2 separate regions of the Homo sapiens genome follow, and region 2 is linked to region 1. A link means that fine-mapping ties the variant in region 1 to the expression of a gene that starts in the linked region. Tissue or cell type: whole blood. Region 1 holds a variant in brackets; the other region holds the start of a gene. All regions are shown on one strand. Distances are from middle to middle.

Region 1 (8,102 bases):
TGGCCAGGCTGGTCTTGAACTCCTGACCTTAGATGATCCGCCTGCCTTGGCCTCAACTTAGACCTTAGCATCACCAAAAACTGTACCATCTTAGAAATTTCAACCCCAAATCTCCAATAATCTCCTTTTAGCTCACTTACTCAACCATGCCACCTCAACAATTTGTGTCCTTCACGTTCACTGCAATCCATTGATCTTACCATTTCCCCAGCATCCAGCAGTCTCCACATATTTCTTCAAGAATCTTGGTTTCTTTAATGAGAAATGATAATTAGAGTTGGGCATAGTGGCTCACACCTGTAATCCCTGTGACTTGGAAGACTGAGGCAAGATGATCACTTGAGTCCAGGAGTTTGAGACCAGACTGGGGAAAAATAGTGCCCAATGGTCTCCACAAAAATAAAAAACTTGGCTGGGGGGCTGGGTGTGGTGGCTCACACCTGTAATCCCAGCAATTTGGGAGGCTGAGGAGGGTGGATCACCTGAGGTCAGGAGTTCGAGATCAACCTAGCCAACATGGTGAAACCCCATCTCTACTAAAAATACAAAAATTATCTGGGCATGGTGACGGGTGCCTGTAATCCCAGCTACTCGGGAGGCCGAGGCAGGAGAATCACTTGAACCTGGGAGGCAGAGGTTACGGTGAGCTGAGATGATGCTGTTGCTCTCCAGCCTGGGGGACAATAGTGAAACTCTATCTCAAAAAAATAAAAAGTGAAAAAAAACTTGGTAGGGTGCTGTGGCATGTACCCATAGTTCCAGCTACTTGGGAGGATGAGGCAGGAGGATTGCTGCAGTAAGCTATGATTGGGTCACTGCACTCCTGCCTGAACAACAGAGTGAGACTCAACTGTAAAAGAAAAAAAAAGGTCATTAGAGACTACCATCTCTGCACCAGGATGCTCATTACTATTGAAGATGCTCATTACTATTGGGTTTGTCAAATTTGGGACTACAAAACTACAAAAAGTCTGTGTTTTCTTTCTTCCATCAAGAGTCATGGTTCTTACGGACACAGAAATGGGAGAATTAGAACATTCCATAATTCCTTATTTGTTTTATCCTACACAATACATTAAACAGTCTCAGAATAACTAGTAGTACTACCTTCGTCATTATGATTACTAAAAACATATTTAAACTTTTTTTGTAAATGCTATTTCCTTTCTCCTTATTTTTTATGGTTATAATGTCTACATTATCAGATCATATGGCCATTACATACTATACTCTCTCTTTTACCTTCATTAGTCTCATTTCCATGAGTAACTAATATACAGTACTGACTCTCAGCCCTTCTGTTGACATCTCTCTAGTTGTCTGAAGTGCACTCTCTAGTGGATTTCTCAGGAAGGGGTCGTGGGAAAAATAATCCCTGAGTCCCTACATATTGATAACAATTTGTCTGTGCCCATTATCGTTGAAGATTAGCTTTGCTTTGGCTCACCTGTTCTTCCTTTTTATTTATTTATTTATTATTATTATGTTTTGAGATGGAGTCCCGCTCTGTCGCCCAGGCTGGAGTGCAGTGGTGCAATCTTGGCTCACTGCAAGCTCCGCTTCCCGGGTTCAAGCGATTCTCCTGCCTCAGCCACCCAAGTAGCTGGGATTACAGGCACACGCCACCATGCCTGGCTATTTCATATATATATATATTTTTAGTAGAGATGGGATTTCACCATGTTGGCCAAGCTGGTCTCCAACTCCTGACCTCAGGCGATCCGCCCACCTCAGCCTCCCAAAATGCTGGGATTACAAGGCGTTGAGTCACCACGCCTGGCTTGTTATTCCTTAAATATTTAAAATATGTCAGCTAGGTGCGGTGGCGCATGCCTATAATCCCAGCACTTTGGGAGGCCAAGGCAGGCGAATCACTTTGACATCAGGAGTTTGAGACCAGCCTGGCCAATGTGGTGAAACCCCATCTCTACCAAAAAAAAAAAACACAAAAACCCACAAATACTAGCCAGGTATGGTGGCAGTTGCCTGCAATCTTTTTCAAATTACAATATTTGTCATTTTGGACTAATGAGATCACTTAATCACTTTGGATCACTTGAGGTCAGGAGTTCAAGATCAGCCTGGCCAACATGGCGAAACCCCATCTCTACCAATAATGCATAAATTAGCCAGGTGTGGTGGTGCATGCCTGTAATCCCAGCTACTCGGGAGGCTGAGGCATGAGAATCGCTTGAATCTGGGAGGTGGAGGTTGCAGTGAGCCAAGATTGCACCACAGCACTTCAGCCTGGGCAACAGAGACTGTCTCAAAAAAAATTATTTATTTCTTCATTTATTTATTTATTTTAGAGATGAGGTCTCACTCTATTGCCCTGGCTGGAGTACAGGTGCAAGCCACAGTGCCTAGCTTCTTTCATGTCTCTCTCTTTTTTTTTTTTTTGAGATGGAGTCTCGCTCTGAAATGCTGGAGTGCAGTGGCATCGTCTCAACTCACTGCAACCTCCACCTCCCAGGTTCAAGTGATTCTCCTGCCTCAGCCTCCCGAGTAGCTGGGACTACAGGTGCACGCCGCCATGCCTGGCTAATTTTTGTATTTTTAGTAGAGATGGGGTTTTGCCATGTTGGCCAGGCTGGTCTCAAACTGCTGTAATTCGCCTGCCTCAGACTCCCAAAGTGCTGGGATTACAGGCATGAGCCATAGCACCCGACTTTATATCACCTTCTTAATGTCTTTTAGCTCATTTTAAAATAAAATGTTATGATTTTCGTCTGTTTTGGGAGCATCTCTCTGGCATGAATCTTTTTCTGTCCTCATTATCTGTTTTCTTTTTCTTTTTTTTTTTTAACCTACCTATTCTCAATTCTCTTTTCTTTTTTTTTAACTTTTTTTTGAGACTAAGTCTCACTCTTGTCCCCAGGCTGGAGTGTAATAGCACGATCTCAGCTCACTGCAACCTCCGTCTCCCAGGTTCAAGCCATTCTCCTGCCTCAGCCTCCCGAGTAGCTGGGATTACAGGCGCCTGCCACCATGCCTGGCTAATTTTTGTATTTTTAGTAAAGACGAGGTTTCACCATATTGGCCAGGTTGGTCTCGAACTCCTGACGACCTCAGGTGATCCGCCCACTTCAGCTTCCCAAAGTGCTGGGATTACAGGCGTGAGCCACTGCGCCCGGCCTCAATTCTCTTTTTCCTTATAGTAACTTTGTGTGGAATTTAACACGATACTCTTCTGTTGCTCACATTTATGTAAATTTAATTTTTCTGAAAGATTTCTTCAGATGGCTTTCCTATGTAGACTGAGCTCCTTCTTCTGTCTGTCGTTTTCTGGTAGTGTTCAAAAACATGATGTCTTGCTCTCTGAGGCTCTCTACCTCTACCCCACTTTTGTCCAAACCTCCTCTTTCTTTGTCTTTATTGTCCATGTCCTACTAAGTTTTTGGGATTTTTGTTTTTTTTTTTAAGACAGTGTCTCATTCTGTCTCCCAGGCTCACTGCAGCTTTCGCCTCCCAGGTTGAAGCAATTCTCCTGCCTCAGCCTCTTGAGTAGCTGGGATTACAGGTGTGCAACATCACGCCTGGCTAATTTTTGTATTTTTTGAGAGATGGAATTTCGCCATATTGGCCAGGCTGGTTTCAAACTCCTGACCTCAAGTGATCTGCCCTCCTTGGCCTCCCAATGTACTAGGATTATAGGTGTGAGCCACTGCATCCAGCCCATGTCCTACTAAGTTGTTTTGTTTTGTTTTGTTTTCTTTAGATGGAGTCTCGCTTAGCTGCCCAGGCTGGAGTGCAGTGGTGTGATCTTGACTCACTGCAGCCTTGAATTCCCAAGCTCAGGTGATCTTCCCACATCGGCCTCCCAAGTAGCTGGGACTACAGGCGTGAGCCACTGTGCCCGGCAAGGAGGGGATTATTAACTGAGTCACTCGAAGAACAATGAGAGGACACAGAGATGTTTAGTTGGAGAAAAGAAATGTAAGGGGAGCCACACATGGTGTCATGCACCTGTAGTCCCAGCTACCCAGGAGGCTGAAGCAGAGGGAGGGGGATCCCTTGAGTCCAGGAGTTCGAGGTCAGCTTGGGCAACATAGCAAGACCCCGTCTCTAAAAATTAAAAATAAAAATATTTTAAAGGCTGGGCACAGTGGCTTACACCTGTAATACCACTACTTTGGGAGGCCAAGGCAGGCAGATCCTCTTGAGC[C/T]CAAGAGTCTGAGAACAGCCTTGGCAACATAGAGAAACCCCATCTCTACAAAACACCTAAAAATTAGCCAAGCATGGTGGTGCACACCCGTAGTCCCACCTACTCGAGAAGCTGAAGTGGGAGGATCACTTGGGCCTAGGAGGTTGAGGCTGCAGTGAGCTATGATTGTGCCACTGTACCCCAGCCTAGGTGACAGAGCAAGACCTTGTCTCAAAATAAAATAAAATAAAACAAAATTAAATTAAATTAAAAAGAAAACTAAAGGGGAAAAGAGAGACATTTTCAAAGATCTGAAGGATTGTTATATACAAGAGGGATTAACCAGAGGTTAGAATTAGACTTGCTTGGTAGAAGTTATAGAGAAACACAACTGGTCTAAAATTTTTCTTCCTTCTTCCTTCTTTCCTTTCCAATTATTTTATTTTTGATCACATAAAACATGAAAAAAATATAAAAAGTACAAAAGAATGTATAGTAAAGTCTTGCATTCAGTTCCTCTTCCTAGAGCCAGTTTCTTGTGTATCCTTCAAGATACATTTTAAGCATATATAAACATTTTTTTATTCTTTAAAAAGAATTTAATATGCTTTTAGATAATGAAAATATTTCTTATTCTTGTAGCAGCAGTCTTGCAATGACTGTCTCAGGCATTTCCTGTCCTGGAGCTATTCAGGGGAAATAGACAAGAAATCATCTGAGGTATATTTTTTTCTCTCTTGCAAATTATTTGTTGAAAAAACTGGATTGTACCTCCTTCCCTGTTCCAGGTGAAAAAGAAGAAAAAAAGAAAAAAAAAATGGATTGTTGTCCTATAGAATTTCCTGCATTCTGGATTTTGCTGATCATGTGGCATCTTTCCTCTGTCCTATGGATTTTTTGTAAATTGGTATTGGATTGAAAGGTTTGATCAAATTCAGATTTGATTATTTTGGTAAGACTACTTCATAGACAGTGGCGAGTTTTTTTGTTTGTTTGTTTTGTTTTGTTTTTTGAGATGGAGTCTTGCTCTGTCACCCAGGCTAGAGTGCAATGGCACGATCTCGGCTCACTGCGATATCCACCTCCTGGGCTCAAGTCATTCTCCTGCCTCAGCCTCCTGAGTAGCTGGGATTACAGGCGCCCGCCACCATGCCTGGCTATTTTTTGTATTTTTAGTAGAGATGAGGTTTCACCATGTTGGCCAGGCTGGTCTCGAACTCCTGACCTCGTGATCCGCCCACCTCGGCCTCCCAAAGGGCTGGGATTACGAACGTGAATCACTGCGCCCAGCCAGTGAGTTCTTCCATCAGGAGACACATAATATCCGGTATCTCTTTTTGTGATGGTCACAACTCCGGATGCTCAAAGCCTAAATCTATAAACTCATCAGAAGTGGACAAATGGTTGGCTGGTTGGGGTGGCTCACACCTGTAATCCCAGCACTTTGGGAGGCCCAGACGGATGGATCACCTGAGGCCAGGAGTTCAAGACCAGCCTGGGAAAAAAAGTGAGACCCCCATCTTTACAAAAAATAAAAAATTCAGCCTGTTTGTCGCAGCTACTTGGAAGGCTGAGATGGGAGGATCACTTCAGTCCGGGAGGTCTAGGCTGCAGCAAGCTGTGATTTTACAAAAATTAAAAAATATAGGCCGGGCACGGTGGCTCACGCCTGTAATCCCAGCACTTTGGGAGGCCGAGGCGGGCGGATCACCTGAGGTCGGAAGTTTGAGATCTGCCTAACTTGGAGAAACCCCGTCTCTACTAAAAACACAAAAATTAGGGTGTGATGGCGCGCGCCTGTAATCCCAGCTGCTCAGGAGGCCGAGGCAGGAGAATCTCTTGAACCTGGGAGGTGGAGGTTGCGGTGAGCCGACATCACGCCAAAAAAAAAAAAAAATGGCACAAGAAGTATGCTGAGGAAACAGGCGGATGGTGGTATTCTCTCATTACTCTCTTTTGTTTTTCTTCTATTTCTTTTATCTCTGCTTTGGTCTTTATTATTTCCTTCCTTCTACCACTTTTGAGTTTAGTTTGCTCGTCTTTTTCTAGTTTGAGATATAAAGTTGGATTACTGATTTGAGATATTTCATTTGTTTTATTTATTATTATTATTATTATTATTATTATTATTATTATTATTGAGACGGAGTTTCGCTCTTGTTGCCCAGGCTGGAGTGCAATGGCATGATCTCAGCTCACCACAAGCTCCGCCTCCCAGGTTGAAGCTATTCTCCTGCCTCAACCTCCCGAGTAGCTGGGATTACAGACATGTGCCACCAAGCCTGGCTAACTTTTTGTTGTTGTTGTTTGTTTTTTGAGACAGAGTTTCCCTCTTGTTACCAAGTCTGGTGTGCAATGGCGTGATCTCGGCTCACCACAACCTCTGCCTCCCGGGTTCAAGCGATTCTCCTGTCTCAGCCTCCCAAGCAGCTGGGATTACAGACATGTGCCACCAGGCCTGGCTAATTTTGTATTTTTAGTAGAGATGGGGTTTCTCCGTTTTGGTCAAGCTGGTCTCGAACTCCCGACCTCAGGTGATCCGCCCGCCTCGGTCTCCCAAAGTGCTGGGATTACAGGCGTAAGCCACCGCACCTGGCCTATTTCTTCTTTTGGAAAGTTGGCATTTACAGCTACAAATTTTCCTCTGAGCACTGCTTTTACTGCATCCAGTAAGTTTTGATATGTTGTGATTTCATTTGCATTCATCTCAAAGTATTTTCTAATATTCTTTGTGATTTCTTCTTTGACCCACTGGCTTTCAACAGATTGAAAACAGAAAACCAAAAGTTTGGTTATTTGAAAAAAAATCAATAAAATTAGCAAACACTTAGCTAAGAAAAAAGAACACAAATAATTAAAATCAGAAATAAAAATGAGGCTGGGCATGGTGGCTCACACCTGTAATCCCAGCACTTTGGGAGGCCAAGGCGGGTGGATCACAAGGTCAAGAGATTGAGACCATCCTGGCCAACATGGTGAAACCCCGTCTCTACTAAAAATACGAAAATTAGCTGGGTGTGGTGGCACGTGCCTGTAATCTCAGCTACTCAGGAGGCTGAGGCAGGAAAATCGCTTGAACCTGGGAGGTGGAGGTTGCGGTGGGCCCGGATTACACCACTGCACTCCAGCCTGGCAACAGAGTGCGACTCCGTCTCAAAAAAAAAAAAAAAAGAAAAAGAAATAAAAATGAAGCCTGGGCATGGTGGCTCACGCCTGTAATCCTAACAATATGAGAGGTGAAGGCAGGAGGATCATTTGAGCTCAGGAGTTGGAGTTCAGCGTGCACAACATAGTGAGACCTTGTCTCTATACTATAAAAATAAAAAATAGACCAGGCGCGGTGGCTCATGCCTGTAATCCCAGCACTTTGGGAGGCCAGGGCGGGCGGATTCCAGCTACTGGGGAGGCTGAGGCAGGAGAATCGCTAGAACCTGGGAGGCAGAGGTTTCGGTGAGCCATGATCACACCATTGCACTCCAGCCTGGGCAACAACAGCGAAAATCCATCTCAAAAATAAAATAAAATAAAAAATAATAAAAATAAATAAATAAAAATGAAGACATTACTACCAACCATACAGAAATAGAAGGGACTATAGGAAAATACTATGAGTATTCAAACGAAACCCTGGTTTCAACACTCCAGTATGCCCTCACCTAGTGCCATGGGGGTGATGCTGCCACCCCAGTGACTCTGGAAGGTGAAGCATCAAGCCAAAAAGGATTATTTTCTTTTTCTTTCTTTTCTTTTTATTTTTTTTGAGACAGAGTCTCACTCTGTCGCCCAGCCTGGAGTGCAGTGGCACGATCTCGGCTCATTGCAAGCTCCGCCTCCCGGGTTCATGCCATTCTCCTGCCTCAGCCTCCCGAGTAGCTGGGACTAAAGGTGCCCGCCACCATGCCTGGCTGATTTTTTTGTATATTTTTTTTAGTAGAGACAGGGTTTCACCGTGTTAGCC
Region 2 (8,102 bases), 66 kb after region 1:
ACCCAACTCGGGTAAACATGTAAAAAACCCATTTATCAACAGTAACACAGGAAGAGCTAAATAATATTCAAAGTGTCTGTAACTTGAATTGACTAAAACACTGGAGCACTCTCACACTAAAAAATTGCTTAGATCTTGAACTAGTTTGAGGAACAATGTTAGAGATTTATATTAGCAATAATTCACATGAGAACAAACTGGGACTTCCAGTTGGCTGCAAAAAAATAGAATCTTAGCCCTCAAGATGTCCATTTATAAATATTTATTAAGAGCCTGCTATGTTCTAGGCATCTTTCTAGGAGCTCCATAAGGGTAGTAGAACCTTGGTAATAGATTACAAATACAGCAGTTCTATGTTCTGCCTAAGTGTAACCACTTAGTAGTGTGTTGTTCTAAATGTAATTTTTAAAGAGGGCCATTGACAAACCAGTGTGTTGCTAGAAAAAAAAGGCTGGCAAGAGAAAGCTTCAAATAGAAGTCTTCAAATATTTGAAGGGCTGCCCAGTGGAGGAAGATCCTGTTTGCTACACAGGAAGTAAAAAGGGATTTCTAGAATAATGGCTAACTTTTTTTTTTTTTTTTTTTTTGAGACGGAGTCTAGCTGTGTGGCCCAGGCTTCAGTGCAGTGGCACGATCTCTGCTCACTGCAAACTCTGCCTCCAGGGTTTACGCCATTCTGCTGCCTCAGCCTCCAGAGTAGCTGGGACTATAGGTGCCCAGCTAATTTTCTTTTTGTATTTTTAGTAGAGACGGGGTTTCACCGTGTTAGCCAGGACGGTCTCCATATCCTGACCTCGTGATCCGCCCACCTCGGCCTCCCAAAGTGCTGGGATTACAGGCGTTGAGCCACCGCACCCAGCCGGCTAGCATTTGTTGACTGCTTAATATAAGCCAAGGCTCTGTGCTAGGCACTTTACATGCAACATCTCATTGACACAATGGGTAATATTATTGTACCCATTTTACAGAGGAGAAAGCAGGCTTAAAAAGTAACCTGCCCAGGGTTCTGCAAGTAAGGAATGGGGCCAGGAATCTATTCAGGCAGTCTCACTCCAGACGACAAAAGAAAGTTCTAATGATATAGCCATCCAACAAAGCGATCACTACTTGGCAGTAATTTTTTTTTTTTTTTTTTGAGACGGAGTATCACTCTGTTGCCCAGGCTGGAGTGTAGTGGCGTGATCTCGGCCCACTGCAGCCTCCGCCTCTCGGGTTCAAGTGATTCTCCTGCCTCAGCCTCCCAAGTAGAGTAACTGGGATTACAGGTACATGCCACCATGCTCGGCTAATTTTTGTATTTTTAGTAGAGACGGGGTTTCGCCATGTTGGCCAGGCTGGTCTTGAACTCCTGACCTCAGGTGATCCAACTGCCTCGGCCTTCCAAAGTGCTGGGATTACAGGCATGAGCCACCGCGACTGGCTTGGCAGTAACTTTTGAGGAATAAAGAATACAGAAGGAGTTTCCTCAAATCTTGTTGCCCTTCCCATCTTTGTGAGCTGAGATCAGAGTACCGTATCTCACCCTCTGCCTCTTGGAGGTGATTATGGTTTACATATAAATGCAGATTGCAAGTCCAGGAAGTTTACTCTCTCTCCTCCTGTAGGCCTCATCCTGTAAGACACTTCCTCTAACAAATGGGCATCCCTTCCTGTTGTCCACTTACTGCTTATCACCACCAGGTGGCACCTGGGCAGCAGAATTGTCAGTGGGCGGGGACCCACCCTGTTTACTTGTGTTGGTAACTGCATTGCAGCTGCTGATCCTGTGGCTCCTGGGCCCCAGCTGGGACAAGAACTTCCTGAGGATGAAGTTTTATCCCCTATATAATTTCTGATGATCTGGATGAGGTGAGGAAGGGAGAAGTTTGGAAAAGAACCTCCATAGGTCACCCTCTCCATTCCCCCATTCTCAGGAACCTCCTTGCCTACTCCAGTGCTTGGCAAATTTCAGTTTATAGAGAGGTTTCTCTCTAAGGTTCATCCATGTTCCTTCTGTAGTTCTGCTTTATCAGTTGGTGAGCAGGTCACTCATAATTCCTCCAATTTCCTTGTTTCCCTTTTCTACCTGCTTACCTCTGGGAATATGGAGGATATAGGAGACAGAATATTGTTTCTTAAATAGTTCTGCAAACTGAATGAAGCAGTCAAGATACTGCTAGCCCTAGGGAAGTAGAGAAAAGGAAGTGAAAAAATTTAAGTGATAGAGGCTGAGCAGGGACAGGTTTTAAGCAGCTTTGGTAAACACAGGCTGATGAAATCTATGCCCTGCAGAACCAGATAAAATTTATCAGCTGCAGGCCTCATCCTGTAAGACACTTCCTCTAAGAAATGGCTAGTTTCTTCCCAGTGATCAACCCCAGTTCTTCTGCTGCATCTGACAGATTTACATAATATGCCCCATATATACTGCATTAAAAGGTAATCATCTTATGACCAACACTTCCCTCATCAACTTCCAATTAGTCTAGTTCCTAGATCCTAGGACAACACTCCACCTCTAACGCCAGTTAACTAGTAACAATAGTCATCGGTGTACCCTGCACTTTTTCCTTCCTAAACCTACACCGTACACTGTGGGACTGCACTAGTTCTGCACCTGACTGTATGGCAAACCTTCCTTCTAACTCAGGCAAATGTGAAAAGGAATTGTCTTTCCCTTACTCTTGATCCCTCATTTTAGTGTCCTAGAAGTTCTTCAGGGTCAGAAAATTATTGGAAAATGTAATAATTTGCGCTGCCTCCCTCCCTTTTGGAGCCAACTAGTCTTACATCCATCCTCTAAGATAGAGATGACTTACTAACTCTTGGAAATTTCCAAAAAGAAATAAAGCCTCACTTTCTATTCACTCTGCTTTTTTTCCCCCTTTCCCTGAAGGCTGGATTATCTCAACTCTGTAATTCTCTGACTCTCCAGTTTTCTCCAGGGTCAGTCGTTACACCACACAAAGAAGGTAGGGGATTAGGGACGGGATAGACGGGGTTAGTTTTCAAACACTTTCATTCCAAATACGATCGTATCCTTTCCTTTTGTAAGGGCAGGCAGGAAAAAGTTGAAGGATAAGGAATGTGCTTAGAGTATGAAAACTAGAGAAAGTCGGCAAAAGAACATATATATATATCCCAGACCAAATCCTGCCAAACCGAATGAGTAGAGGGAAATCCTGAAGCTCCACAACCCCTCAACTTCGCAACTTGGGCTTTCTCCAAAACCAAGAAATTGGCGGTGCAGCTCTGCATGACGTCATACCACAGGCACTCCAATCCCACGTGGGGGAGCTCTTGGTCCCGCCTCTCCTGAAATGGTGCGCCACGCCTCCTCCTCTTTATTACCAATCGAATGCCGCCCCTGAGCCCCTTTCTTCCTTTTCCCGCCATCTCAGACCTCCCATCTTGGCCTTCGGGCCCAATCAGGGAGGCCCTACCTATCCGAAACCCGGTCCGTTCCCCGCGGAAGAGGGGTGGAGTTTCAACCTTTTAACTCCACCTTGGTCTGTGCAGCGCGGACCAACCCAAATCGCCAGAAAGGAGGGGCGTGGCTTGAAGTCCCCTCCTCCATCCCGGGGATCACGTTTTGCCTGGGGGAGCTGATCGCAAGACTAGGCAACCTCCAGCCAGTCCCTGGGTCGGGCGGATCCTCCCAGAGGTGGCACAATGGAGCGATCTCCAGGAGAGGGCCCCAGCCCCAGCCCCATGGACCAGCCCTCTGCTCCCTCCGACCCCACTGACCAGCCCCCCGCTGCTCACGCAAAGCCAGACCCAGGTTCTGGGGGCCAACCTGCTGGCCCTGGCGCGGCGGGTGAGGCCCTGGCGGTGCTGACTTCATTCGGGAGGCGGTTGCTGGTGCTGATACCTGTGTATTTGGCCGGGGCAGTGGGACTCAGCGTGGGTTTCGTGCTCTTCGGCCTCGCCCTCTACCTGGGCTGGCGCCGGGTCCGCGACGAGAAAGAACGGAGCCTTCGAGCAGCGAGGCAGCTACTGGACGACGAGGAGCAGCTCACTGCGAAAACTCTCTATATGAGTCATCGAGAGCTACCTGCCTGGGTGAGCGACCACCCTCGGTCCTCTGTGCAGCATAGCCCCCTTCCACCCCTTCCATCTGGGGCTTTTCCTCCTTATGCCTAGAGTCAGCTCCCTGCCTTGGGACAGTGGGCCCCAGACTTTCCCCTCTCTCCCCGCTAGCCGCCTGCCTGCTGGACGCGCCACTCTTGGAACCGACTGCTCACTCTCCCCACCCACCCTTTCGCATGCCCAGACTGGATCCTTCCACAGAATCAGGACTTCTTCCTCTACTTGGGCAACAGCAGTAATAACATCTGGGGACCCCGTCTCAGCCGAAGCTCTCCCTCCTAGCCAAGCCATCTTGAACGTCCCTCTTGCTTTTGGTGCCACTCGCGGCTTTGCTGCTCCTGGAAATCCTGGTCCCGTTACCTCTCAAAGGTTTCCCTAGTCTTTCCCATCCTCCTCGAGACTTTTTACCTACTTAAAGCCATACGGTTCTCTCTTTTCTCGCTTTTATCCCCGGGTACCCGCTAGGACCCAGCCCCGGCCCCTGGACGACCCTCGGGCAGCCACCTTCAAGCCTCCAGCCGCCAGACTGCAGCGCGGCAGAGGCGGCTGCTGGACGGAGGGAGGGCTACGGGAGGAGGTGGTGCGGCTGCTGCAGTGCCCGCGGCGCACACTCCCCCGCACTCCTCGGCCGGCCACACCCTTTTCCGGACTGTGGGCTGCGCTTGTTCCGTTGGGGCAGAGACCCTTATTTCTGCGGCGGCCGCGTCTCCTGTGCTGAGGCGGATGCCTTCTCTCTAGTCTTGCAGAGGCGAAGCCGGTTACCCGGCCCCTCCCAGCAGAGGTGCCAGTCTAGGGGGAGAATGGCAGCAGAGAGGAATCAAAATTGACACTAGACAGACACAGCCAAGCTTCCCAGGCCCTGGACTGGAAAGGGGAGGAGAAAGAGGGCCAAATGGCTCTAGGGGACCTGTAGCCTAGGCAGCAAGTGTTTGTCTCCTCCTCATCATCATGGAAACCAATCTTCCTACCCCCAATACAAAGCGCAGGTGTCCTTTCCCTTAAAAGGAGTCACACAGAGAAAGATAGAGGAAAACACACACACACACCCCAAAAAACCCACAAAGCCAGGCCTAATTAGGTCTTCTGGCCCCTCCCTGACTCAAGGAAGGACTTGCTTCCCTCTTCACCTTCCTGCTCTAGAAGCCCCGTCTGAGGGGAGTTGAGAAGGCTGGAAAAGGGGACTTTTTTTTTTTTCTTTTTTGAGACGGAGTCTCGCTCTGTTGCCAAGCTGGAGTGCAGTGGCCCGAACTTGGCACACTGCAACCTCTGCCTCTTCAAGCGATTCTCCTGCCTCAGCCTCCTGGGTAGCTGGGATTACAGTCACGCGCCACCACGCCCGGCTAATTTTGTATTTTTAGTAGAGACAGGGTTTCACCATGCTGGTCAGGCTGGTGTCGAACTCCTGACCTCGTGATCCGCCGGCCTCGGCCTCCCAAAGTGCTGGGATTACAGATGCGAGCCACCGCGGCCAGCCTGGAACCAGGACTTTTTAAATCCCAGGATTCCCTCAAACTCCAATTTGACTGGACCTCCCCCTCCAGAAAGAATGCGCCCTTCTCCTCCTCCCGCTCCTCTCTCTCTCAGCAGCTGTCATTTCACCACGTCCCTGAGCTATCCACAGGGCAACAGCGTGACCTCTACCTTGTCAGCTCCCCTTATTAGAGAGACATCAGCCCCCAAACTCTGTGAGGAATGAACCTTTGGGGCATCCTCGCCCCTCGCCCACCCTGAGTGTGAGGAGTCACACACACTCCCTCTCCTCTGTGGCACACCACCAGCATCTTAGTAGGAAACCAGAGGCGAGGGTGTGCTGCACGTCACTGTCTCTGCCTTCCCCACCTCCAGGTCAGCTTCCCAGACGTGGAAAAGGCTGAATGGCTCAATAAGGTGAGGATTGATTTGATTTTTAGTCTTCATGAGGGGAGAATGGGAATTTGTTTCTTCTTGCCAGACCCATCCTCAACCCTCAGTGCTCTCCGTGGGGAGGATTCTGAAGGAACTTGCCTTGAGAGGGAAGACTGGACTCTCCTCTGACCATCTCTCTTTCCTCCCAGATTGTGGCCCAGGTCTGGCCCTTCCTGGGCCAGTATATGGAGAAGCTTCTGGCTGAAACTGTGGCTCCGGCTGTTAGGGGATCTAACCCCCATCTGCAAACATTTACATTTACACGAGTGGAACTGGGTGAAAAGGTATGTGTGGAGGAGGGAAAGTGAGGAGGTAGGCTAGGGAGGGTGAGTGGCCCGGAGTAGACTCAGGTACTTCTCCCTATCCCTGCCCTCTCTCAGGAATTTCTCTCTCCCTAGCCATTGCGCATCATTGGAGTCAAGGTTCACCCAGGTCAGAGAAAAGAGCAGATCCTGCTGGACTTGAACATCAGGTAATACCACTCACCACTCTTACTGCTTCCCCTTCAATGTGTCCTGTTCAGTCCAGGCTACTTCACTCCCCCTCCCCGCAACTTCAGCCAAGGACTAACTCTCTTGGTTCTCTTCTTCACCAATCCCCAGCTATGTAGGTGATGTGCAGATTGATGTGGAAGTGAAGAAATATTTTTGCAAAGCAGGAGTCAAGGGCATGCAGGTAGGCCAGATGTCAGGGGCCACATAATAGGGAATGTTTGTCCTGCGTTTCATGGGATATGGGGAAGTGTGAGGTTGGAAAGACCAAGGCTGAGAAAGTCTGGGAGGACAGAAGAGGGACTTTTCTGGGGAAAGGCTTTGATTTTCTCTTCTTGCCTCAGCTACATGGCGTTTTGCGGGTGATACTGGAGCCACTCATTGGGGACCTTCCCTTCGTGGGGGCTGTGTCAATGTTCTTCATCCGACGCCCGGTAAGGGAAAACAATGAAGGGGTATGGGGAAGCAGGAGAAACAGAGGACTGGGAGGATGAGGGCAGCCAGTGAAGGGGAATGAGAAGGGAACTGACAAGAAGGCCGAGGGGTTCTGGCAACTGTTTGATGGGTATGACCACACCCCATAGGATCTGTCCTGACCCCTGCTCTTTCCCTCCAGACCCTAGACATCAACTGGACAGGGATGACCAACCTGCTGGATATCCCAGGACTTAGGTATCAAGGACTTACTGAGCACCTGCTGAGTGTTCCAGCGCTGGGTTGGGGGTTTAAGGGACACAGAGCAGTCAAAGATGCTGCTTGTGTCCTCTAGGAGCCTCAACTTCATTTGGGGAGCAAAGACAAATACCCCTGCAAAGTTTGATACTGTGATTTTTCTTTGGGTTGGGGGAGCAGGAAGGGAATGCAGAGGGCTGAAGACTGCAAAAGGCAATGGGGATGGCAGTGAAGAAGGGAGAGAGCAGTAGGTGGGGAATTAGGGTAGAAGAGTAGCACAAAGGATTTTCACAAAAGGACTTTCTTACAGCTTTAGGTCTCTCTTGGGTGTGGGAAACATAGTTGGGGTTAGGAGAAAATTGGAAGTTGAGGCCATACCCACTCCTTTCTACTCCCCCATTCAGCTCACTCTCTGACACCATGATCATGGACTCCATTGCTGCCTTCCTCGTGTTGCCCAACCGATTACTGGTGCCCCTTGTGCCTGACCTTCAAGATGTGGCTCAGTTGCGTTCCCCTCTGCCCAGGGTATGGCCTTTCCCCCACTAGATAGATCCTTCTCTCAGGAACCCCTTGCTGGGTCCTTAGTTTCTCACCATCTGATTCCTTCCTCCAGGGCATTATTCGAATTCACCTGCTGGCTGCTCGAGGGCTGAGTTCCAAGGACAAATATGTGAAGGGCCTGATTGAGGGCAAGTCAGACCCATATGCACTTGTGCGTTTGGGTACCCAGACATTCTGCAGTCGTGTCATTGATGAAGAACTCAACCCACAGTGGGGAGAGACTTATGAGGTGGGAGAGTTGAGCAGCTCTGTGAAATGGGGAAGCCCCAGGAGGTTGTGAGAGAAGATGCTGATTGGATGATCCTCACAGCTGCAGCCCCATGAGACACTCAGCCTTCTGTGTTCCCCAGGTGATGGTACACGAGGTCCCAGGGCAGGAGATTGAAGTGGAGGTGTTCGACA

Evidence for each region. PIP is the estimated chance that this variant, and not a neighbour inherited with it, causes the effect.
Region 2: ESYT1 starts here. The variant in region 1 is fine-mapped to the expression of ESYT1 in whole blood (TOPMed, PIP above 0.99).

What each region holds. Positions count from the first base shown.
Region 1 is chr12:56,058,383-56,066,484 of GRCh38, forward strand. No RefSeq gene overlaps it. Among named protein-coding and RNA genes, the nearest start is that of ERBB3, 18 kb to the right of the region's middle. The variant C/T (reference allele first, on the strand shown) is at 4,166.
Region 2 is chr12:56,124,669-56,132,770 of GRCh38, forward strand. It overlaps ESYT1 (extended synaptotagmin 1), which reads left to right and starts at 3,599. Exons shown (of 31, transcript NM_015292.3): 1 at 3,599-4,041; 2 at 5,914-5,955; 3 at 6,123-6,257; 4 at 6,372-6,445; 5 at 6,576-6,648; 6 at 6,809-6,898; 7 at 7,081-7,136; 8 at 7,541-7,664; 9 at 7,753-7,929; 10 at 8,051-8,102. The coding sequence starts at 3,652. It overlaps ZC3H10 (zinc finger CCCH-type containing 10), which reads left to right. Exons shown (of 3, transcript NM_032786.3): 3 at 1-2,846. RefSeq lists enhancers at 1,572-1,831, 3,271-3,932, 3,738-3,987, 4,308-4,407, 4,588-4,647 and a silencer at 3,468-3,537.